Linked DNA regions of Homo sapiens. The protein of the gene in region 4 interacts with the protein of the main gene of each other region in a biochemical or structural test. Each region holds a gene or a part of one and is shown on either strand. Other genes may lie near its edges. The genes, in order: LDB3, TJP3, ARHGEF11, VANGL1, FRMPD3, LIMK2 and SIPA1L2.

Evidence for each region.
Region 1: the proteins of VANGL1 (region 4) and LDB3 interact in a test that uses a peptide from one of them, tested with the Homo sapiens proteins (one large-scale study listed by IntAct).
Region 2: the proteins of VANGL1 (region 4) and TJP3 interact in a test that uses a peptide from one of them, tested with the Homo sapiens proteins (one large-scale study listed by IntAct).
Region 3: the proteins of VANGL1 (region 4) and ARHGEF11 interact in a test that uses a peptide from one of them, tested with the Homo sapiens proteins (one large-scale study listed by IntAct).
Region 5: the proteins of VANGL1 (region 4) and FRMPD3 interact in a test that uses a peptide from one of them, tested with the Homo sapiens proteins (one large-scale study listed by IntAct).
Region 6: the proteins of VANGL1 (region 4) and LIMK2 interact in a test that uses a peptide from one of them, tested with the Homo sapiens proteins (one large-scale study listed by IntAct).
Region 7: the proteins of VANGL1 (region 4) and SIPA1L2 interact in a test that uses a peptide from one of them, tested with the Homo sapiens proteins (one large-scale study listed by IntAct).

The regions. Positions count from the first base shown.
Region 1 is NC_000010.11:86,717,011-86,720,510, reverse strand, and holds part of LDB3 (LIM domain-binding protein 3), read right to left. Parts: intron 2,548-3,500; coding exon 2,367-2,547; intron 1,785-2,366; coding exon 1,664-1,784; intron 1-1,663. UniProt on the Homo sapiens protein: May function as an adapter in striated muscle to couple protein kinase C-mediated signaling via its LIM domains to the cytoskeleton.
Region 2 is NC_000019.10:3,725,384-3,728,883, forward strand, and holds part of TJP3 (tight junction protein ZO-3), read left to right. Parts: intron 1-3,040; coding exon of another isoform or gene 3,041-3,049; coding exon 3,050-3,097; intron 3,098-3,220; coding exon 3,221-3,330; intron 3,331-3,500. UniProt on the Homo sapiens protein: TJP1, TJP2, and TJP3 are closely related scaffolding proteins that link tight junction (TJ) transmembrane proteins such as claudins, junctional adhesion molecules, and occludin to the actin cytoskeleton.
Region 3 is NC_000001.11:156,934,340-156,937,742, reverse strand, and holds the end of ARHGEF11 (rho guanine nucleotide exchange factor 11), read left to right. Parts: intron 1-246; coding exon 247-494; intron 495-737; coding exon 738-927; intron 928-1,498; exon of another isoform or gene 1,499-1,612; intron 1,613-1,684; coding exon 1,685-1,743; 3' UTR 1,744-2,903; downstream 2,904-3,403. UniProt on the Homo sapiens protein: May play a role in the regulation of RhoA GTPase by guanine nucleotide-binding alpha-12 (GNA12) and alpha-13 (GNA13). Acts as guanine nucleotide exchange factor (GEF) for RhoA GTPase and may act as GTPase-activating protein (GAP) for GNA12 and GNA13.
Region 4 is NC_000001.11:115,662,470-115,665,969, reverse strand, and holds part of VANGL1 (vang-like protein 1), read right to left. Parts: intron 2,310-3,500; coding exon 1,702-2,309; intron 1-1,701.
Region 5 is NC_000023.11:107,592,652-107,596,151, forward strand, and holds part of FRMPD3 (FERM and PDZ domain-containing protein 3), read left to right. Parts: intron 1-3,500.
Region 6 is NC_000022.11:31,267,798-31,271,297, reverse strand, and holds part of LIMK2 (LIM domain kinase 2), read right to left. Parts: coding exon 3,391-3,500; intron 3,155-3,390; coding exon 3,098-3,154; intron 163-3,097; coding exon 97-162; intron 1-96. UniProt on the Homo sapiens protein: Serine/threonine-protein kinase that plays an essential role in the regulation of actin filament dynamics. Acts downstream of several Rho family GTPase signal transduction pathways.
Region 7 is NC_000001.11:232,508,134-232,511,633, reverse strand, and holds part of SIPA1L2 (signal-induced proliferation-associated 1-like protein 2), read left to right. Parts: intron 1-3,500.

The DNA.
Region 1 (3,500 bases), on a different chromosome or scaffold from region 4:
GAGCTGGGAAGGGCATTCACTAGTACAAGAACCCAAGACGTTTCTTTTCTTTCTTTCTTTTTTTTTTCAGATGGAGTCTTACTGTGTTGCCCAGGCTGGAGTGCAACGGCAGTATCTCAGCTCACTGCAACCTCTGCCTCCCGGGTTCAAGCGATTCTTCAACCTCAGCCTCCCGAGTAGCTGGGATTACAGACGCCCGCCATCATGCTCGGCTAATTTTCGTATTTTTGTAGAGATGGGGTTTCACCATTTTGGCCAGGCTGGTCTTGAACTCCTGACCTCAGGTGATTCGCCTGCCTTGGCCTCTCAAAGTGCTGGGATTACAGGCGTGAGCCACCGCGCCCAGCCAAAACGTTTATTTTCTAATTTACAGTCAGGGGAAAGAAGTTTTATTTTGTTTTGCTTTTTCCCTTGAGGAACTGAATGTTTTCTCCTTTCTGATTTTAAAGTAAACTAACTTACTGTGTTTCTCTTTTTGCCCTCAAATTTGCTACCCAGTTAGTCCCTGCAGCTCTGTTATTCTTCATAATCAGCATGCCTGCTTTTCCCGCCTCTGATTTTCTGGTTCTACTGTCTTAGCCTTCATGTCTGTGTTACCTTTTCTGGAACCTGCTTCAAATCCTTTCTGAAGGGGGAAGCCTCTGAATAAATGAGTGACTGACTTCCACCTATCTAATGAAGTGCTTTGTCTCTTGAATTTACAATAATTTACTTAGCATTTTAAGATAACATATAGCATTTTGGGGGTACAGAGAAACTCTGAATTCACTCCGTGAGATTACAGGAATCTGCAGGAACATCAAAGTCTGATAAATATCACAGGGGCAGAGGAAGGGGTCTCGCATATTTGATGCTCTACACGCCTTCTCTGGTTTAATCCTCACCACAGCTCTGTAAGGCAGGTGTTTACAGACGAGGAAAGTAAGGCTCAGAGAAGGTTAGTAACTTGCTCAGGTTTACAAAGCAGCCCAAAGTGGAACCAGGAATAGAATGAAGGACAAAGTCCACAGCCAAGGCCTTTTCAGACTAGACCTTGTGGTCTCCAAATCAAAATAACCTGAAAGGTTTCCCAGTGGTCATAAGATGCCAACTTGTGATCTACATTTTTTTTTTTTTTTGAGATACAGGATCTTACTCTGTTGCCTAGGCTGAATACAGTGGTGCTATCACAGGTTACTGCAGCCTCGAACTCCTGGACTCAAGCGACCCTCCCACTTCAGCCTCCTGCGTAGCTGAGACTACAGGCACGCGCCACCACACCTGGCTAATGTTTATATTTTTTGTAGAGACTGGGTCTTGCTATGTTGCTGGTGTCAAACTCCTGGGCTCAAGCAATTCTTCTGTCTCGGCCTCCCAAAGTGCTGGGATTAAGGTGTGAGCCACCTCACCTAACCAGATCCACATATTTGATGCATAAAATAAGCTATAGACTCTGCACCTCACTCTCCCCAAAGCTGCAACCATATGGGCAGGGGAGATAGTTAACTTCCTTTGTGTGATATTAGCATGATTCTGCCATTAAAAGCAAAAACAAAGGTTTCTTCCAGAAATAAAGGCCTCTGGGTGGTCGGATGTGAATGGATTAGGCAGGAGTTAGTTCCCTGTGCCTGCCCCTTTCTCCCAGGCTGTGGGGCCTCCCCACATGCCATCGAAGTGTTCCTACCTTTCTCGCAGTAGGGCTCCCCGTCTTCCATGTGGAAGAGGCTGTTCCCAAAAGGCTTCTTGCAGGCCGCACAGACGAAGCAGGTGGTGTGCCATGTCTGTCTCAAGGCATGCATTACTTCCTGGGGGAAAGAGCCTAAGCTCAGGACAGAAAGGAGAGAGGGAGCGGGCTTGACTACCCCACCAGGCTCCAGCCACTGCCCGAGCATCCTACCAGGGAACAGGGCAGGAGATCTCAGGATGCAGGCCTTGGTCACTCTGAAGAAAGACCCAGGGGTGTCAGAGAAGGGGTTGTCACTCTCCAGCTGGGTGCCAGGTTCTGTGCTTTCTTACATAAACTGTGAGGCTTAATCCTCCCATTAAACCTGGGAGGAGGTACTGCTTATTACTGTCATTTACCAAAGGGGCATTGAGGGTTAAGGCCACATTCTGGTGAGTGGTAAGGTCAGGCTGTGAAGCAACCACTTGCTTTGCAGAAGTTCCACCACCACTTCAAGCTGTGTGGAACAGGCACACAATCATCTCTTGCATCAAGTTCATTTATCCCCAAGTTTATTGGTGGCAAACCAATTCCCTTTTAGGATAAAAATGGAGTTGCTTTCTCTGTTACCAGCAACTTCTTGGCTTCCTAATGGGATCCCACGATCTTGGGGAAGGGCTGGGGAAGAGACATGGGTCAGAGGAAATGGAGGCCTCCCACTTACCCCCATAATTTTGGTGTTGCACTTGGCACACAGCGGGGCAAAGAATTGCTCATAACATCGCTCACAGTAAACGTTGTTCTGCTCTTCCACAAAGCACACATCTGCCAGGGAAGTCTTGCAGTAGGCACAGGTGAACTCTTCAGGGTGCCAAGAACGGCCCATGGCTACCAGAAATGGGCCCCTGGGGAAGCACAGAATGGCACCCAGTAAGGCAGCTCCCAGAACTTGGAATTAGATATTTGAAGAACCCCAACACTGTTTATACTTTTACCCAATAACTCTGACTTTTGTGACTGTTCTGATGAAGTAATGTGAAATTCAGAGAAAGCTCCATGCAGAAAGGTGTTCATTGTTGCATCACTTACAATAAAGAAAATCAGGAAGCAACTCAAACATCTACCAATAGGGGACTGGGTAAACATATTATAGAATTCAGTTGACCACTGATAATGATAGTAAGAAATGCAATAATGATGATGCTGATGGCTAACATTTATTAAGTGATTACTCTGTGTCAGGCTCTATTCAAGAAGACTTTTGCATTTATTAACTTGCTTAATTCTCACAACAATCCTACGCACTAGGTACTATTATAATACCCATTTTTAGATAGGGGAATTGAGGCACACAGAGTTTGAACAACTTGTTTAAGGCCATAGGGCTAGTAAGTGGTAGACCAGGATACAAACTTGTATTGTCTAGTTCCAGGTTAGCAGTCAGAACAGTGGGACTATGAAGACATTTTTTTATATTCTAATTTTTACTTTTCTGTGTTTTCCAATTCTTCACTAATGAGTATGTATTACTTTAGTTTTAAATAAAAGTGTATTTTTCACGTATATAAGCTCACACCACACATGCACACAAACATACTGTATTCAAACAACAGCACCCATGGTCCATGGCTTCTAAGTATGAAATCACTTGTTTTCATTTTAGTCTGGCAGATGCCCACCAACCCCCTGAGCAGCCCAGGCCTGTCTGTGGAAAGACCCAGAAACAACCCTAAAGGAAAACTGGGTCAAAACCAACACTGTCTAACAAAATGCCCTGTAAACCTACTGACAAGCCTGGTGATTCCCAGACCTCAACCTTAGCCCAAGGGGGAGTTCCTGGCACCAGGCATCCTGCTGG
Region 2 (3,500 bases), on a different chromosome or scaffold from region 4:
TTTTAATCTCACCTCTAAAGTAGGAATAATAACTGTGCCACTTCCTAAGGTCACTCTGAGGATGAAATGAATGGGTCCACATCAAGCGCCTGCTTGCAGCCAGGTTCAAGACAGCCTGACCAACATGGTGAAACCCCGTCTCTACTAAAAATACAAAAAGTAGCTGGCTGTGGTTGTGGGTGCCTATAATCCCAGCTACTCGGGAGGCTGAGTCAGGAGAATAACTTGAACCCAGGAGGTGGAGGTTGCAGTGAGCCGAGACTACGCCATTGCACTCCAGCCTGGGCAACAAGAGCAAAAAACCCCATCTCAAAAAAAAAAAAAAAAACTACACAAGGAGAAAGTCATTATTTGGCCACCACCTCCCCAAGGCTCCTTCTGCTTTTTGCTTTTCAGGCATTGAATCTGTACCCTTTTCCCAAACCACATCCCTGCAAGACAGGGCAGCAGTGCCATTTCACAGATGGGGAGACTGAGGCTGGGAGAGGCCCCGCCATAGCTAGCACGGGTGGGCAGACTTGGGATTTGAGTCCAGTCCTGAGCGCTGCCCTGGCTCCTTCAGAACTGCAGAGCCCTGCCCTCTGCTCTGTTTCTCTCCCCTCCACCCGCCTTCCCACTCCTGGAGATCAGGAATGCTGGCCTCGCTAGAGACGCTGGAGCTTATAAGAAAAGGCACTGGAGCGCACCAATGGGGGGTGCCTGGGCAGAGGGAATCACACACCCGCTGTGCCAAGCCTAGAAAACCCGCCCCGGGGAGGAGGAGGAGTCACTTCTACAAACTCCCTCCCCACTCCCTCCACCTGTCCCCTGCCTGGGGAGCAGGGCATGGTGCGTGCTGGCAGGAGGGAAGGGAGGGTGGAGGCGTGGCCAGGTGACCTTGCACCTGAGTCTGGTGTTCTCATTCATGCCATGGACATGAAAATAACAGAATCTGCCTGGTGTGGAGGCTCACGCCTGTAATCCCAGCACTTTGGGAGGCCAAGGCGGGCGGATCACTTGAAGTCAGGAGTTCAAGATCAGCCTGGCCAACATGGTGAGACCCCCGTCTCTATTAAAAATACAAAAATTAGCTGGGCATGGTGGTAGACACCTGTGATCCCAGCTACTTGGGAGGCTGAGGCAGGAGAATCGCTTGAAACTAGGAGGCAGAGGTTGCAGTGAGCCAAGTTGGCACCATTGCACTCCAGCCTCAGCAACAGAGTTTTTTTTGTTTTTTTTTTTTCTAAGTGGGAAAGCCCAGGTGGGAGGATCATTTGAGCCCAGGAGTTCAAGAAGAGTCTGGGCAACACAGCAAGACCCTCCTGTCTCTATAAAAATAGAAGTTAAAAAATTAGCTGGGCATGATGGTATGCACCTATAGTCCCAGTTACTCAGGAGGCTGGGGCAGGAGGATTGCTTGAAGCCAGGAGTTCGAGGCTGCAGTGAGCCATAATGGCTCACACTTGTAATCCCAGCACTTTGGGAGGCCAAGGCTGGAGAATCACTTGAGCCTAGGAGTTTGAGACCAGCCTTGGCAACACAGAGAGACTCCATCTCTACAAACAATAAAAAAAATTAGCCGGGCATCGTGATGTGTGCCTGTGGTCCCAGTTACTTGGGAGGCAGAGGTGGGAGGATCACTTGAGCCTGGGAGTTCGAGGCTGCATTGAACCGTGATCACACCACTGCACTCCAGCCTGAGTGACAGAGACCCTGTCTAAAAAAAAAAAAGTGTGGGAGGGGGGACTTCATGGCTCTGTGCCTCAGTTTCCTCATCTGTAACATGGGGATAATTGAATGCACCTTTGATGAATGTATTAAATGAGATAGTACATGTAAGGCTGGGCGCGGTGGCTCATGCCTGTAATCCCAGCACTTTGGAAGGCCAAGGGGGTGGATCACAAGATCAGGAGTTCGAGACCAGCCTGGCCAACATAGTGAAACCCCGTCTCTACTAAAAATTCAAAAAAATTAGCTGGGCATGGTGGCACATGCCTGTAGTCCCAGATACTTGGGATGCTGAGGCAGGAGAATCACTTGAACCTGGAAGGCGGAGGTTGCAGTGAGCCAAGATCACGCCATTGCACTCCAGCCTGGGCAACAAGAGCGAAACTCTGTCTCAAAAAAAAAAAAAAAAAAAGAGATAGTACATGTAAAGCACCTGGCACAAAGGAAGTGTTTCATTCATTCACTCATTAATTCATTCAGCAAATCCTTCTTGAATCCCTGCTGCAACTCAGGCGCTGTTCTAGGCAGGGAACTGAGGGCTCAGTTTTGGACAAAGACAAAAATCTCTGCCCTCTGTGGGTGGATCAGTTGAGGTCAGGAGTTTGAGACCAGCCTGGCCAACATGGTGAAATCCCGTCTCTACTAAAAATAGAAAAATTAGCCTGGCGTGGTGGTGGGCACCTGTAGGTGCCCAGCTACTCAGGAGCCCAGCTACTCAGGAGGCCAGTAGGCAGCCAGCTACTCAGGAGGCTGAGGCAGGAGAATCACTTGAACTTGGGAGGCAGAGACTGCAGTGAGCAGAGATTGTGCCACTGCACTCCAGCCTGGGCAACAGAATGAGACTCCGCCTCAAAAAAAACAAAACAAGGCTGGGCACAGTGACTCACCCCTGTAATCCCAGCACTTTGGGAGGCCGAGGTGGGTGGATCACTTGAGGCCAGAAGTTAAAGGCCAGTCTGGCCAATGTGGTGAAACCCTATCTCTATTAAAAATATAAAGATTAGCCAGGTGTGGTGGTGCACCCCTGTAATCCCAGCTACCTGGGAGGCTGAGGCAGGAGAATCGCTTGAACCCGGGAGGTGGAGGTTGCAGTGAGCTGAGATCGTGCCACTGCACTCCAGCCTGGGCGACAGAGCCAGACTCTGTCTCAAAAAATGAAACAAAACAAAAAAACAAACAAAAAAACCTGAGGCCCTGAGAGAGGTAGTAACTTGTCACAGGCTCCAAACACAGGCCTGTCAGAGCTGGACTCCCCACCCTGAGCTGGGGACCCCCAAGTGCTCAGATGAACCTGTGTGGCCTCATGCCCATCTTCCCCGCTCCCCTCGACCAGGTGGCTGACATGGAGGAGCTGACCATCTGGGAACAGCACACGGCCACACTGTCCAAGGTGAGGCCTCCCTCTCCCTGTCTGGGTGCCAGAGAGTATGGCGGCTTAGGCCCAGCTCAATAGAGGGGAGACCCTTTACCCTGGGGGAAACAGCAGCTCTTCCTTCCCCTCATCCTCTCTCAGGACCCCCGCCGGGGCTTTGGCATTGCGATCTCTGGAGGCCGAGACCGGCCCGGTGGATCCATGGTTGTATCTGACGTGGTACCTGGAGGGCCGGCGGAGGGCAGGCTACAGTGAGTATCCAGGCAGCTGGGTTCTGGCGGGGGAGGGCACGTGGAGAGGAGAAACCAGGCCAGGCACAGTGACTCACACCCGTCATCCCAGCACTTTGCGAGGCTGAAGTGGGCGGATCACCTGAGTTCAGGAGTTTGAGACCAGCCTGGCCAACATGGTGAAACCCCGT
Region 3 (3,403 bases), about 41 Mb from region 4:
CTTGAGTTCATCGCTCAGCATCTCCCCCAGCTTGGGGCCAGACTGAGCAAGTGTCATCTAGAAGGTCTCGGGAGCAGGGCTTTTAGGGGGCTGGCAGACAGTGAGCAAGGCCCACGTTCTCTGAGTTTGTCTGGAGAGGACTGCCTGGCCTGCTCTGTCAGGTGGCTGGGGAATCCCACAGGAACGGGAGGATAGCTTCGACTTCTCTGTTTGCCTCCTGATCTCATTCTCTTACTGTGGGGACAGGGAACTGCTTTTATGTCAGCATGCCATCAGGACCCCCGGACTCAAGCACCGACCACTCAGAGGCACCCATGAGCCCCCCTCAGCCTGACAGCCTCCCTGCAGGGCAGACAGAGCCTCAGCCTCAGCTGCAGGGAGGCAACGATGATCCAAGACGCCCCAGCCGCTCTCCTCCAAGCCTGGCCCTCAGGGACGTGGGCATGATCTTCCATACCATTGAGCAGCTCACTCTCAAGCTCAACAGGCTCAAGGTGAGGGAAGCAGGGCTTGGGTCCCTGCAGGCCTTCAGTCCATCACCCCAAAACCATTCCCCATGAGTGAGATGTGTGTCTTCGCGGGAGCCCTAGATCCTGTCCTGGCCCAGGGATCTTCCCCCAGCCCGCCCAGCCACCCTTAAATCACACCCTCCTCCCCAAGGCCCAGCACAGACCCCTTCCCCAGGGGCCTTAGGAATAGAAGGACTCGAGCAGACATTCCCCCGCCGACTCTTCCAGGATATGGAGCTGGCCCACAGAGAGCTGCTCAAGTCCCTTGGGGGAGAGTCATCTGGTGGCACCACGCCTGTGGGCAGTTTCCACACAGAAGCAGCTAGATGGACAGATGGCTCCCTCTCACCTCCCGCTAAGGAGCCCCTAGCTTCTGACTCCAGGAACAGCCATGAACTGGGGCCCTGCCCTGAGGATGGTGAGTGAAGCCAGGTCCCTCTCGGTTCCTACCATTGGGGGAGAAGTCTGCCAACTCGTGAGGACACATCACTAAGCAGTGAGAGATGGTGGTTCTGAGAGTGGTTTCCCCTTGAGTGAAACGAGTTCATTCTCTCAGCTTCAGAGAGGGATCTTTTTAGGGAAGTCCCACAGAAGCTCCCTGGCAAAATGGGGAGCTTAGCACTGAGCCCTCTTTTTCCTTGTGCTATGGAGGTAACAAACCAGGAGGAGCCTGTTCTCACCTCTAAGACTTGTTCTTTTTTTAATTTTATATATATATATATATATATATATATATTTTTTTTTTTTTTTTTTCTATTTATTTGAGACAAGGGCTGGCCTGGCTATGTTGCCCAGGCTGGTCTCAAACTCCTGGGCCGAAGTGATCCACCCACCTCAGCCTCCAAAGCAGCTGGGATTGCAGGTGCACACCATGGTGTCGGCCTAAGACTCGTGCTGATTAAATGATTCAGAACCACACTGGGTGGGCCAGGGACACAGCTATGTCATAACTCAGGAAGACAAGGCACATACCTACCTGACCTAAGGGCTTTAGGCGCTGATGAAAGTGGAGTTCAGTAGACAGCCCTTTTCAAGCCCTACGAGAAACTGGGGTTTCTGGAGGAGAAGGAAGGTGATGAAGGATCTGTTCTCGTGAGCCTGAACTTTCTAGACAAAACATGTGGAAGCGGTCACCTCAGGCTGGCCAGTTCCTCACCTTCATCCTCCTCCCACAGGCTCTGACGCCCCCCTGGAAGACAGCACAGCAGACGCAGCCGCGTCACCAGGACCATAACCGTACAAACCACCAAATCCTCTGCGTCCCCACTCCTCCTTCAGGGACTGGCCTGAGACCGGGGCACAGGGTAGGGGGGATCCCAACACTCCTCCCTGTGGAGGAGGCAGTTAGGGAAACTAGGATCCAGCCAAGGCCCGGGGGGAGACCCGCATGTTGCTTGGTCTGCTCAAGTCGGAGTCAGGTTTCAGTGTCTTTTCCCTCCCTTAGCCCAACCCTCCAAGGCCTCATGTCTCCTAAGCATGCTGACTGCATCCGAAAGGCCCCCACTCACCATGGTCTGCCCTCACCCCACATATGTGTGTACACGCGCACGCCTGTATGTGCGCTGCCCTCAGACATGCAAGTGAAAGGAGGAGGCTTCTGTGTAAATGCACTTTCTTCCTCCCCTCTTTCTCCATAAGACCCCAGGCAGAGGTGGGTGCCTCCCCTCCCCTCTTTGTCACTTTGGTTTCCTATAAATATGTATGTATCGTATGTGCATCTTTGCTATTGTAAATAACTTTGACCTTTTTTGTTCCTGTTCCTGAAGTGCTGGAGGCAGTTATGGAAGGAGCTGCTTAGGGAAGAGGGGTTTCACTTGTATCTCCTTAGTTAACAACCCAGTTCCAGGATCGAGCCTAAAGCGGGAGCCAGGCCTGAGTGTTCCTGTCCCTGTGAGTGGGAAGGTCTTCTGGCTCCCCATCCCACCTGGCTCCAGAGCCTGCCCTCCACAGCTTGCTGCCAAGCTACTCCCTCCCTCCCTGGACTTCTCATCTTCACAAGATGGGGATCATGGGGGTTTCTTACCCCACCTATGTCCCCCTCTTCCCCACCCTGTCCCTGTAGAAAACCAGTGAAGCAGGTACGGAGCTGAGGACTGGGCCCCAGGAGGTGGGGACAGGGGTCTGAATGCCGAGTCCCTGAATTCACCCAGGACCATCCAAGGGGCCACCGCAGCATTGGCCCCATCACCACGTCCTCACCCAACTCTCCCTGATGAATAGAATATACACACTGTGCTAGGTGTATATATACATATATATATATATAAATATATATATAATATATAAAATATAGATATGGAAATGACTGTTCTGCTGTTAAGATAATGTATACTCTTTTATTTTCTTCCTTTCATGGTTAAGATTTTTTTTTTAAGAAAAGTTAAATATCCTTCAGTGGTGGTGTGTGTGTTTCTTGGAATCGCTGTGATAAAAGGTACGGTGTTTGTTCCCTGTAAGACTGGTTAGGATTGGATAGTGGGAACCAGAGGGAGCCCTCTCACCCCCAGACCCAGATCTTGCCTGTTCCCTCCCAGAGCTTCAGCTGTGCACTCACTGAACTAGGGACTGGGCAAACTTAAGTTGTACAACCCCCATGGAGAAAACATGACAAGACACTGAACTCAGTTACACACACACAGATATATATATAGATACATATATATACACACATATATAGATATACACACACACACACATATATATACACATATATGTGTATATAAAGGAGCAGTGGACCCAGAGTCAAGAGGTCTCATGAGCTGCCCTCAATGAGCTTGAAGACTTTAAAAGCCAAATCTAAGTGGGAGGGTTGCCTCAGGCCTGGCCAGTTCATCACTGTCATCATCCATCCACATCCTCCCACAGACGCAGCCACATCACCAAGACTGTAACCA
Region 4 (3,500 bases):
CCTGTTTCTGCACCTGTCCACCAGACAGCGGTGCACTGGTCTCTTTCCAAGTGACTGTGAGTGCCACAGGTGCTGAGATAGAGCTCTGAAGGCAGCCAGCCTGGTGTGTCCAGGGCTCTGCACACAGCAGATGTTTAACACAAAACTGCTGGTCATTCCCTGATGCAAAACATGGGAAAAGAAAGCCTTCTGAGATGAATATGCAGCAAAGCGGTGACCTACTTGTCTTCAGAGCCCTACAGGCATCTGTGAAGGACTCTAAACCCCAGATTTTTGGTGCACAGACATGTGACTTGGACACCAGTTTCCACCAAGGATCAGTTAGGGTGGCAGCAACCTTGAACGCTAGATCATCCCGTTCTCGTAGCACAAGCCAAGCCAGAGGAATGGAGGAGGGTACACACCAACATGAAGATGGTTTGGCAGCATGGCCTGACTCCAAATACAGGCTGAGCCACCTTCCTGGAGCCCAGCCAAATCTATGACAAAGCCGATTGTTCTGATACCCACTAAGGTGTGCCCTTGCTGATTCTGGCTGCTCTGCCAGCTACATGATCACAGCAGTAATAGCTGCAATGAACTAAGTGCCTACCCTGCCCCAAGCAGGCTACACACATCAGCATATACTGCCTAAGGAGGCAGAGAGCCTGGGAGAGGGTAAAGGCTTTGAAGTCAAATGTCCCAGGCTCTGCATTCACCCAGAGAACATCTCAGTGCAAGCCATGCTCCATGCCAGGCACTGAGGATGTAATGAGGTATAAGGGTGGCCCCTGGCCTCAGGGAGTTCATAGTCTGTGGAAGAAAACAGATGGAAAAATAGGCCACTAACCACAAAGTGAGAGATGCCATTATGGGGGCATTCACTCAGCCCTGGCCTCATGACATCTGAGTGAATCCTAAATGAGGCTAGCCATATGTTTTTGTGCAAATTACTTAAATCCCCTAAGCCCTAGTTTCTTCATCTGTGACACAGGGATTAATAATACCTAGGTCACGGGGTTCTATGAAGACTAAATACACAATCTATATATAAAGTGCTTACCTTGAAGCAAATAAAATGATGGTAATCACTCTTATTTAACCACAAAATAATGAGATTTTATGCAGAGATGTAAGTATGACAACCCAACTGACTTCTAACTTTTTCTCACGCATACATTTTCACAACACTCAAGGATTACACATTTGGAGTCTCTAACCTGCACTTGATTCTTTATTGGAGGGTCCCTCGGATGACCATATAATTTACTGCCCAAACCAGGCCTCTGAGAGTGGGAAAAAAGGAACAATTCATTATTCCACTGGGACAACATGGTAAACCAGATGTCACATTTGGGACAAAATGGAGCTGCTGGTCACTTTATCTGTTGTCCATTGGCCAATTTCAGAGTCAAAGAAGGCAGCCATCACTATGCATCTCCTTTCTCCATCATTTTTGGGAGCTGCCAATAACTTTGAGAACAAGCCCAGCAAAATCTCAACCTGGGTGAGAGCCAGCAACTGCCCCGCACCATCTAGAAGTCCAGAAACTCAATGAACATGGACACCCTCCCCACCCTCGCATCTCCTCCCCAAACCAGAAAAGAGTCAGACTCTGGTCCTAGCTCTTGGCATCTGTCACCACCCCTCACGTGCTACAGAGCAGCTGTCTCCCAGCAAGACATCAGCCATCCTTTCTGCCTCCTGGATGTTGCCTCTTACCTCAGGTGTCCCAGGCTGTAGAAGCGGGACTCGCCATCGGTGGAGCGGACCACCTGCAGCGTGAACATGGGCTGCAGCTGCCTGAGCTCCAGCAGGACGATGGCCAGGTAATGGATGAAGAGGAGGGCATCCACAAGGGAGACTGCATATTGCACAATGCCCTGGTAATTCCGGTCCCGAGAGTCCAAAATGCGGACCCCGTAAAAAAGCCAATAGGAAACCACAAAGAGAAAGATGAGGACCAACAAAAGGGCACGAAACACAAACACCCGTGGCATGTCAGCTCTCCGCTTGCGGAAAAAAAGTGCCCAGGTCCCTATGAGCAGAATGAGGAGTTTGAATGCCATGGAGATAAAGAGCCCCTCACAAATTGTGCCACAAGGCTCCAGCTCATCCCTCCACAGGATCGGAGGTAAAAGGATGAAGGCAATAGGGGTGAGGAAAACTAGAAGTCCAAGAAAAGAGGCGACGGTGAGGCCCAGGTAGCGTTTGCAATCCAGCCCCACGCTGTCCTCCATGTCCTTGCTGATCCTGGCAATGTCCTCTTGGGATATGCTGTGCTCCGAGGTGCCTGTGATGGCCGTGGTGGTCTCTCCCCAGTTGTCATCCTGGTGGGGAGAAGACAGTGAGGATGACATGACACAGGTCATTTGTAAAAGCTACAAAGGGCAGTGAACATGCAGGGCCCGCTGCATCTACCCAGCCCTATTCACAAAGGCTTCCAGAAAATGAAAGCTTAACTCTTTAAATATTAGAACTTCTTAACTCAAACGATTTTCATTGAAATTTTCAAAATGTATGAGGTATTTACCTTTTCAAACAGAGAAAACATAATGTGATCTTTCTGTCTGTTTGGCTGATTCATTGACATAACATTGATTATCATCCCCTGGGTTGAAAAGCCTTGAGCAGCTCTGAGGGCCTGGAGCTGTTTGCCCTGCAATGCGCAACCCAGGTATTAGACTAATCTTGTGAGAGCTCATCTATAGAGATAAACCTCCTGCATCTTCTTTCCAATTCACGCTGGGTTATAAAGGCTTACGAAGTCCAACTTTTGGAGGTGGGAGTATTACTACACCCTCTAGCAGCCCAGAAGAGCAAAGGGCGTAGCAAGGGAACTTACACCACTACACAAACCCAAGCTTACCTGTAGCTAGGACCCACATTTTAAAATCTCTTTATGGACTGGGGCGCGGTGGCTCACACCTGTAATCCCCGTACTTTGGAAGGCCGAGGCGGACGGATCAGGAGGTCAGGAGATCAAGAACATCCTGGCCAACATGGTGAAACCCCGTCTCTACTAAAAATACAAAAATTAGCAAGGCGTGGTGGCACATGCCTGTAATCCCAGCTACTCAGGAGGCTGAGGCAGGAGAATCGCTTGAACCCGGGAGTCGGAGGTTGCAGTGAGCTGAGATCGTGCCACTGTACTCCAGCCTGGGCTACAGAGTGAGACTCCGTCTCAAAAAAAAAAAAAAAAAATCTCCTTATGATGTTCACAAGATCCACTTAACAAGCATCAGTGTCAAGCACTCTTTAACAATATTTCTCATGGACCAAGCTAAGCAAATCCAGGAATCCGTGTATGGCCAGATTGGCTTAAAAATTCTTTCTAAAACATGTTTTCACGAGGAACTAAACATCAAGGGCATAGAAACAACCAGGATTATTAAAATGTTATCTTTTACTTTCTAGCTTCCTCTCTTTTTAAACTTCTAGGCCGTTGCTAGTTAAAGCAATTAGTCTATTCACTTAGCAAAACCCAGTTGATAGAATTTTAAAGGATTTTGTTGTTTAAA
Region 5 (3,500 bases), on a different chromosome or scaffold from region 4:
TTTTAGTTTTTTAAGGAATCTCCATACTGTTTTCCATAGTGGTTGTACTAGTTTACATTCCCACCAGCAGTGTAAAAGTGTTCCTTTTCACCATATCCACACCAACACATATTTTTTTTTTATTTTTAAATTATGACCATTCTTTTTTTTTTTTTTTTTTTTTGACAGAGTCTTGTTCTGTCACCCAGGATGGAGTGCAGTGGCACAACCTCCACCTTCCGTGTTCAAGCCATTCTCCTGGCTCAGCCTCTTGAGTAGCTGGGATTACGGGCATGCACCACCATGCCTGGCTAATTTTTGTATTTTAGTAGAGACGGAGTTTCACCATGTTGGTCAGGCTGGTCTCGAACTCCTGACCTTGTGATCTGCCCACCTCAGCTTCCCAAAGTGCTGGGATTACAGGCATGTGCTATCGCGCCCAGCCATTATGGTGAATTCTTGTAGGAGTAAGGTGATATTGCATTGTAATTTTGATTTGCATTTCCCTGATAATTAGTGATGTTGCACATTTTTCCCTATGCTCGGCCATTTGTATACCTTCTTTTGAGAATTGTCTATTCATGTCCTTAGCCAACTTCTTGGTGGGATTGTTTGTTTTTTTCTTGCTGATTTGTTTGAGCTCCTTGTAGATTCTGGATATTAGTCCTTTGTTGGATGCATAGTTTGCAAAGATTTTCTCCCACTCTGTGGGTTGTCTGTTTACTCTGTTGACTGTACCTTTTGCTGTGCAAAAGCTCTTTAGTTTAATTAAGTCCCAACTATTTATCTTTATTTTTATTGCTTTTGCTTTTGGGTTCCTGGTCATGAAATCCTTGTGTAAGCCAATGTCTAGTAGGGGTTTTCCAATGTTATCTTTTAGAACTTTTATGGTTTCAGGTCTTAGATTTAAGTCCTTAATCCCTCTTGAGTTAATTTTTGTGCAATGTGAGAGATGAGGATCCAGTTTCATTCTCCTACATGGGGCTAGCCAGTTGTCCCAACACCATTTGTTGAAAAGGGTGTCCTTTCCCCACTTTATGTTTTTGTTTGCTCTGTCGAAGATCAGTTGGTTGTAAGTATTTGGGTTTATTTTTGGGTTCTCTATTCTGTTCCATTGGCCTATGTACCTATTTTTATACCAGTACCATGCCTCGTAGTATAGTTTGAAATCTGATAATGTGATGCCTCCAGATTTGTTCTTTTGCTTAGGATTGCTTTTGCTATGCGGGCTCTTTTTTGGTTCCATATAAATTTTAGGATTTTTTTTTCTAGTTCTGTGAAAAATGATGATGGCATTTTGATGGGAATAGCGTTGAATTTGCAGATCGCTTTTAGCAGTATGGTCATTTTCACAATATTGATTGCACACACCCATGAGCATAGGCTGTGTTTTCATTTGTTTGTGTCATCTGTGATTTCTTTCAGCAGTGTTTTGTAGTTTTCCTTGTAGAGGTCTTTCACCTCCTTGGTGTTTTATTTTTTTTGCAGCTATTGTAAGAAGGGTGAAGTTCTTGATTTGATTCTCAGCATGGTCACTGTTGGTGTATAGCAGTGCTACTGATTTGTGTACATTGATTTTGTATCCTGAAACTTTAATGAATTCATCTATCAGATCTAGGAGCTTTTTGGATGAGTCTTCAGCATTTTCTAAGTATATGATCATATCATCTGTGAACAGTGACAATTCGACTTCCTCTTTACCAGTTTGGATGCCCTTTATTTATTTCTCTTGTCTGATTACTCTGGCTCTTTTAGTTATTTTTAAAAGTACAATTAAGTTATTATTGACGGTAGTCACCCTATTGCGTTATCAAATAGTAGGTCTTATTCATTCTTTCTACTTAGTTTGCTCTTGTTTTTCTGGTTTCTTAAGGTAGAAGTGGAAGTTTATGGTAATTCATATGAAATCTTTCCTCTTTTTTAACGTAGGCACTTTCAGCTACAGATTTCCCCTTTAAGAACTATTTTAGGCCGGGCGCGGTGGCTCACGCCTATAATCCCAGCACTCTGGGAGGCTGAGGTAGGCAGATTACTTGAGGTCAGGAGTTCGAGACCAGCCTGACCAACATGGTGAAACCCCATCTCTACTAAACATACAAAATTAACCAGACATGGTGGCACATGCTTATAATCCCAGCTACTTGGGAGGCTGAGGCAGGAGAATCGCTTGAACCCGGGAGGTGGAGGTTGCAGTGAGCTGAGTTCGTGCCATTGCACTCCACCCTGGGCAATAAGAGCAAAACTCCATCTCAAAAAATAAATTAATAAAAAATTTAAAAAAACGACTTTAGCTAGATCCCATAAATTTTGGTATGTGGTATTTTCATTTTTATTCATCTCAAAGTATTTTCTAATTTCTCTTGTGATTTTTTTCCTTGACAGCCTGGTTATTTAAGAGTGTTTTGGCTGGGCACGGTTGCTCATGCCTGTAATCCCAGCATTTTGGGAGGCTGAGGCAGGCAGATCACTTGAGGCCAGGATTTTGAGACCAGCCTGGCCAACATGGTGAAACCTCATGTCTACCAAAAATACAAAAATTAGCTGGGCGTGGTGGCAGGTGTCTGTAATCCCAGCTACTTGGGAGGCTGAGGCGGGAGGATCACTTCAGCCCAGGAGGTGAAGGTTGCAGTGAGCCAAGATTGCACCACTACACTCCAACCTAGGTGACAGAGCAAGACCCTGTATCAAAAAAAAAAAAAAGTGTTTTGTTTGATTTCTACTTGTGAATTTCCCAGACTCCCTTCTGTTACTGATTTCTAATTTAATTATGTTGTGCTCAGAAAATATATTTTGTATGATTTTATTCCTTTTAAATCTAGTAAGGCTTATTTTATATCCTAACATACGGTTTATTCACAACAGTGTTCCATATGCACTTAAGAATAATGTATATTCTGCTGCTGTTAAGTAGATGGTTCTATAGATTTCGGTTAGGTCTAGTTTGATTTATAGTATTGTTCAGGTCCTCTGTTTCCTTGTTGATATTCTGCTTAGTTGTTTTATCCATTATTGAAAGTGGAGTATTGGCCGGGTGCGGTGGGTCACGCCTGTAATCCCTGCATTTGGGAGGCCAGGGCAGGTGGATCACTTGAGGTCAGGAGTTTGAGACCAGCCTGGCCAACATGGTGAAACCCCGCCTCTACCAAAAACACAAAAAATTAGTCGGGCGTGGTGGCAGGCGCCTGTAATCCTGGCTACTCGGGAGGCTGAGGCAGGAGAATCACTTGAACCCAGGAGGCAGAGGCTGCAGTGAGCCGAGGTCGCACCACTGGACTCTAGCCCAGGCAACGGAGTGAGACTCCGTCTCAAAAAAAAAAAAAAAGAAAAGAAAAGAAAAGAAAGAAAGTAGAGTATTGAAGTCTCCTACTACTGTTGTTGAATTGTGTATTTTTCCCTTCAATTCTGTCAGTTTTTTCTTCCTGTATTTGGGAGTTTTGTTGTTAGGTGCCAGTGCTGTACTTTTGTCATAGATGTAATCTCTAGTGAAAGGCAACACTGGCATATTGACTCTGTCAAACTGG
Region 6 (3,500 bases), on a different chromosome or scaffold from region 4:
GCCCTCTAGCCAGAGGGGACAAGTCAGCCTCCTTTGTGACAAGGAAGCCAGGAAGGATAGGACCCTGGAGGCCAGGCCCAGAGCAGTGGGACATACCAACTTGATGAGGCAGTTGTGCGAGTTCAGATCCCGGTGGATGATGCACATAGAGTGCAAATAGGCCTGGAACAGAAGCATGAGCTGAGGCTACAGGGCCAGCAAATCAACTAGACCCTGAATCTGGAATTGGGCGCCATAGATGCTCTCCTACCAGGCCATGCCCACCCAGCTTCAGAACCCAACCTGGACAACAGGGCCAGGGCCTCCTATGGCCTCTCCCTTGTCCCAATACCAACAGGAAGCCTGGACTTCCTCTGCTTCCCTGCTGCCATCTCCTGCCCATCCTTTGGTTCACCAATCACTAGCACAGTGGCTGGCCAAAGCCCTCACAGCTCTCTCCTAATGTCCCCAACTTCAGAAAACCCTGGCCGTTGCAGCACCCCCTCCACCTCTACCCATTTTACTTAGATCCAGGCTGCTCCCTCCTCCCCACTCTCCCAATCTCTGGCTTGAGCCACTTTGGATCCTTCCTGCCTGCAACAGAGAAGTGACTTCTTGCTCCAGCTAGCTCTGTCTTTCAGACATTCACCTCCTCTAAGACTCCACCTTCCCCACTGTCTAAACTTTAAGCTCTCCCCCTTCCTACCAAAATGTTTGTCAACAAATTTGTTTGTTATGTCTCCTCTCCAGGCCTCCACCACTGACTCTTACCACTCTCAGGAGCAACTTCCTTTCTCCTTCCCTTGCAAATGTAGAAGGAGCCACTCCTTGCTCTCCAGCCCCCTGCAATACTACTTTCATCCCTTAGGCTCCTGGAGCTGCTCACACACCCAGGGAGCTCTTCCTGAATCGCTATAGCTCATGACCTGCCTGCCTGCCTGCCTGAGGGAGTGCTCCTCAAAGACTGTCCACAACTTTCCTATGCTACCTGATCCTGAGACTCTTGTGTGTCTGTTTTTTTCTTCCAGCCTTTTCAGTGTCAGCCCTGCTCAAAGCCATCTCCTCTTCACAAGCTGAGACACCCCCACCAGCTACATGGATGCCTCTTCTGTCCCACAGCTCCAGCTGCCCCTTCTCTGCAGATTAGGTGACTAGCAGCCTCTCCCTAAGCCAGTCTCATGGAGCCAGTTTCCTGCCCAGAAGATGCTGATAGGTTCTGCTAGCACAGAACAGCAGGGATCAATGCTAGCTCTTCCCAAACCAGTTGCTCAACAATCATGGCTATCCCCCATCCCCCAAATGTCTGGTAAGTGACACCTCAAGCCACTCGTAACTCCTCCTCCTCCTCCTCCTGTTCCCTCATTGCCAACCAGTCTCTCCATTCTGACTCCACCCGGCCTCCCAGGCTCCTGTCCCCACAGCCACTACCTTAATTCAGAAATTTGAAATGTTTCATTAGCCCCCTATGCAGGGCTCCATTCCCTGGACCCTCCGCATTCCACCCCAATGTACTAACCATATCAGTCTCTCTTTTTTTTTTTTTTTGAGATGAAGTCTCACTCTGTCACCCAGGCTGGAATGCAGTGGTGTGATCTTGGCTCACTGCAACTTCTGCCTCCCAGGTTCAAGCTATTCTCCTGCCTCGGCCTCCTGAGTAGCTGGGACTACAGGCGTGCACCACCACGCCCAGCTAATTTTTGCATTTTTTTCTTTAGTAGAAACAGGGTTTCACCAGTTGGCCAGGCTGGTCTCAAACTCCTGACCTCAAGTGATCCACTCACCTCGGCCTCCCAAAAAAGTGCTGGGATTACAGGCATGAGCCACTGTGCCAGCCCAGACTCATTTTGGAAAAACCACAGCTCTTAAGCTTTCTTGCTTAAAAATCTTTTCCTGCCGGGCATGGTGGCTCACAACTGTAATCCCAACACTTTGGGAGGGCGAGGCAGGAGGAATGCTTGAGCCCAGGAGTTTGAGATCAGCCTGGGCAACAAAGTGAGAACCTGTCTCTACCAAAAAAAAAAAAAAAAAAAAAGAAAAAAAAATTCAAAAAATTAGGTGTGGTGGTACACACCTGTAGTCCAGCTACTTGGGAGGCTAAGGCAGGAGGATTGCTTGAGCCCAGGAGGTCGAAGCTGTAGTGAGCCATGATCGTGCCACTGCACTCCAGTCTGGGCAACAGAGCAATATCCTTTCTCAAAACAACAACAACAAAAAAACCTCCTTCCTGATTCAAGCCCCAGAAACAGGAAAAAAAAACAAAAAAACAAACAAACAAACAAACAAAAAAACCAAAAAGCCAGTCAACCAAAAAACTCTTTTACATTTGTCTCCTATAGTCCAGACTCCATAGCTTAAAACACAGCGACCTTGATGTACCCCCAAACTGTTCCAGACTACTACTATTTTCATGGACCCCCATGTGAAGGGCAGTGGCTAAAGTCTCAGGCTTGGCGACCAGACTGATTAGCCCAGGATCCCAGCTCTGTCCCTTTCCAGTCCAGCTTATCTGGAAACCAAGGTTGTCATGAGGAATAAACATGCACATGCATGTTAATCCCTCAGCCCAGTGCCTAGCATATAGAGGGCACTCAGTACTTGTCAGCTGTTATTATTTCTATGCTTGGAATCATTTGTTTCCAGGTGAAATAGATGATTTTCTCCTCTTTCCTCCCAGGTCTTTGCTCCTGTCACTTCAATCCTGGTGCCTCTCTGCCAATAAGAACTTTATCCAATTCTGATCCTTCAGGGCTCCGCTAGAACTCATTTCCCCTTCATTGATTTCCTAGGCAGTGAGGTGCTCTAGTTGGTCTAAGGGCCCTCAGCACCTGAATACCTGTGATGGCAAGCCCAGGCCATCTCAGGCTACAGTTTGCCTCTCCAGTTTGCCTTGTCCGTGCCCTGTTTGCCTTTAGAGATGTGTAATTCTTTGAAAACAGGGCTGTGAACTGAGAACAGTTGGCTGGGGTCAGTTTCAGTGACACAGACAAACTCAATGAATAGCTGCTGACCCAGCCCACACAAGTTGCATAGGAAGGGGTCTCTACCTTCCAGTGAAGCCCACAATTCTCACACCTCTCCCTACTCTCGCCCTGCTGGCAGGTTTGTTGGTGGGACTCACCATTCCGGAGGCGATTCCTTTGGCAAACCTGACCTTCTGCTGCCAGGGGAACGGATCCTGCAGAATGGGGAATGATTTTCAGAGGCTGTTGAGCCCTGTCCCACTCGTGGTCCAGGCCCCATGGGTCAATGTGGTCTCCCAGTGAAGCCTCCCTGTGTATGCTCAGTCCCACCCAGCATGGTCCTTTGGAGGCAAAGCAGGGCCCCTCTGCCCTTTAAGCTCCTAGGGTAGTGATAGCATAGGTGTCTGACAACCCACCAAGGCTCCTGGAGACTATGGGGTGGTGTGCTCACCATACTGCGCAGAAAGTCCTTCAGTGTGCCCCCCTCAATGTACTCTGTCAGGAGGTTCAGCTTCTTATCCTTGTACAGCACACCAATGAACTTGAGCACATTGGGGTGGT
Region 7 (3,500 bases), about 120 Mb from region 4:
CCACTTCAGTCCCTTATAACGTTAAACCACTGTGAAGCCTGTTTATTACTTTTTCTCATGGAGTATAGACTTAAAAGAATTTGTCTGCCAGATAAATTGTGATTATTAATAATTCCCCCTCCTGTTTTTGCATCAATCCAGACTTAGCATGTCTTTTGTAATCACATTATGACAACATGAATCAGAGAAATGATCTGATGCAATAAAGCTAAATAAACAGATATTTACACTGCATCTGGTCACTTAGTGTGAATTGTCTCTCTGTCCTCATACTGATGACATAATAGGACTGAAATAGTTTTGTCAACAGATCTTGGTCCCCTGTTGTGTCTCCTTTCCTCTCCTCCACCCTGAATTTCGGTCTTGGCTTCAGGTGTGCCTCAGTGTTAACACCATAGTTACTTCCTTCCAGCCAGTGGAATCAAAGAATCCTGGACCTGCTTTTTTGTCTCTGCTGTGAAAATAACTCATAACCCTCATGCCCGTGTTCATGCAGAGGTATCACATTATATCACACTGCTCAAGGATGCTCTCTAGGTGGAAGTTAGTTATTTTTGGAAAGGGAGATGGAGAGATAGGCTTCCTAATTAAGGTTATTTTTATTGATGAAGCCATGGCTGCCAATTCTTAATAAAATAAAGTCTGTTGGATTTATTATGCCCTGAAATCCCCAGGTAATTAGTCATTCTGGCTAGCTGAGTTTTGTAAATAGTTTGTGATTCAGACTTTGAAATACTAGAACATAAAATTATATATATGTTCATATTTATGCCAAAACTTAGTGCCAGCGTCTCATTCATATGCTGTTGCACATGTCTGAGTGTAAGTGGAATGAAAAACTGTTGTTTTGTGCACCCCGGTCACCACCATTTGATTCATTAATGTCCCCAGGGTCTGTTCCCCGAGATGATTTTAGGTTGCTAGATTCTGTTAGTTTTCTTGACTGCTACTTGTAGTTTTTCTCTTGAATTCTCAACTGTCACTTCTTGGTAGTTTTAAAGACTCCTCTGCAAGTGATTTATTTCCTCCACCTTTTCTGATGAGCTACTTAGTTTTTCAAGAGCATTGCAAATGACATCATCAAACTGCTTAGGTTTGAATGTGAAATAAATAAGCTCCAAAGAAGAATCTGAGTGTAGACACCCTGTCAGTGAATTGTGGGTGGATGTACGCTTATCGTTTGGCATTTTGGTGCTGTTGGGCACACTCTCTGGTTCTGAGCTTTGCAGTGGATTTATAAACGAGTCAGAAAGCAGAATTCTAGACTATAGTCACGCATCAGTTAACAACAGGGATATGGTCTGAGAAATGTGTTATTAGGCAATTTCGTCATTGCGTGAACATCATAGAGTATACTTACACAATCCTAGATATATATCTTTATTCATATATATATATATATTTTCATATTGAAAACCAAATGTCCCAGCACCATTACTGAATATCAGACATTTCCCCTTATTCATCTGCACTGCCAATATCAAGTGCCATGCATCAGATTTCTGTATATGCTCCATCATGATTTTATGGGACCACCGTCATGTATGTGGTCCATTGTTGACCGAAATATCCCTATGCGGTACATGACTGTGCTTTGCAAAGCCCACAAAATGAGGGAGTGGGGAGGCAATCCGTGAGGTCACTTTGTCTTCAGTGTTCTGTGATTCTGTGCTGTGGAAGGTGCTGTTGTGCCTGCAGATGGGCTCGGGCTGGGGAAGGAGCGGCCACCAGGAGCGAGAAGAAGGCCGAGCCCCGGCTGCTCTGTTCTCTCTCCAGCGCAGCTGTGAACTGTGTCCTGCCTCCTCCTATATTTAGCTCTTCCCCTGTGGTCCAGTGTGACTTCAAAGTGAAATTGGTTACAATGGCATCTGCTCCTGCTCTTGCTGGTCTCTTGTTGAGCCATTAAGGACTCCAGGCAGAGGCAGCAGCCCAGATTCTTAAGTGAAAAGTACAGTGAGGTGGAGGCCTCCTATGGTGTGGGAGTAGATTCCCATTCCCGCTTCAGCCACTGGACACAGTTGTGCAAGACCCTTCTGTCTGCAAACATCATGAGTTGGGTGAGCTTCATTGTATTTAAAAACAGAGGGCCTGGGCAGACTGGCACAGATAACGATGTTTTTGAGATAGCTTTTTTCTTTCCCTTTTTTGCTTTTCCCTTCTCTCAAGGATTTTCTCTTTGGAAACTGACTTTCAGGGATCTATCTTTCAATACTTTCCAGAGTGCTTTTATTTTGTTCTGTGCTTCAGGGTTCTGTGTAAAACTTCATTTTCAAGAGAATTAACTGGCTCCCAATCATGGCAAATGTTTAAAGTGCGATACTTTAATAATGTGATTTCTTCTTTATTGGGTAGTTAATGTGAAATGTCTGCTTTTGATGCTGAGGTGTATTTCTGTGACACATCATCACTGAAAGGCTGTTGAATAACTTTGTGAAAGGATTTCTGCAGGGGAGTGGCAGGACACAGGAAACTGTGTGACAACATCGCTTGCCCAGGCAAATCCATCTGTAGCTTTCAGTGAAATAGCTTTTCTTTTTTCTTGAAGACAGAGTCTCGCTCTGTTGCCCAGGCTGGCGTGCAGTGGCGCAATCTTGGCTCACTGCAACCTCTGCCTCCCGGGTTCAAGCAATTCTCCTGCCTCAGCCTCCCAAGTAGCTGGGATTACAGACATGTGCCACCACGCCCGGCTAATTTTTGTATTTTTAGTAGAGATGGGGTTTCGCCGTGTTGGCCAGGCTGGTCTCGAACGCCTGTCTTCAGGTGATCCACCCACCTCAGCCTCCCAGAGTGCTGGGATTACAGGCGTGAGCCACCGCACCCAGCCAAAACAGCTTTTTTAAAAGCAGTGAGGATAGTAGCAAGTAGAGTGAATGCCCAATAAGTCCCTTCCTTTCACGGGCGATAACCATGAAGACACATTGGTGCCGTTTGTCACATTACTGTTTCTCTGATGGGACTCATTGTGAATGTGCCATTTGCTGCTGCTTTGAGCTTTGCATTTGTGAAACAGGCTGTGACAAAGGGTCCCTTAGATAGGGATTCTAGTTGTGCTTGACCACGGTCAGTCATGTGAGCATCAGTGAGTCTGGTTTCCATTGTAGCAGAGCAGCAGGCTTTGCCTCCTTCTGGACCTGCTTGGCACTGCACACTGCCACCAACAGTGGGGCCAGTGCTGGAACTGTGTGGCAGAGCCCAGACACTGTGTGTTGACACGTGAGGTCTCCCCCGCTTGGTGACGAAATCCTTAACTTGTTAAGAAGTTGTGCACCTAGTGGGTTACTCAGGAGTTCTAAAACGGTTCTGTGCCCTACTTTATGCCACCCAGACCAGAATAGTTCTAGGAGGCAAAGTGAGTAATATTTGGGTAAAGAGAGGTTAAAACCAGATGGGAGGATGAAGCTGGGCCTCCGTGGTGACTCAGGAGTGAAGTGAAAAGTGGCTAAATCATTGTCTGAGCCTTCGGGAACGTTGTTTTGCTAGAGCCATTCTGCTGGCACAGG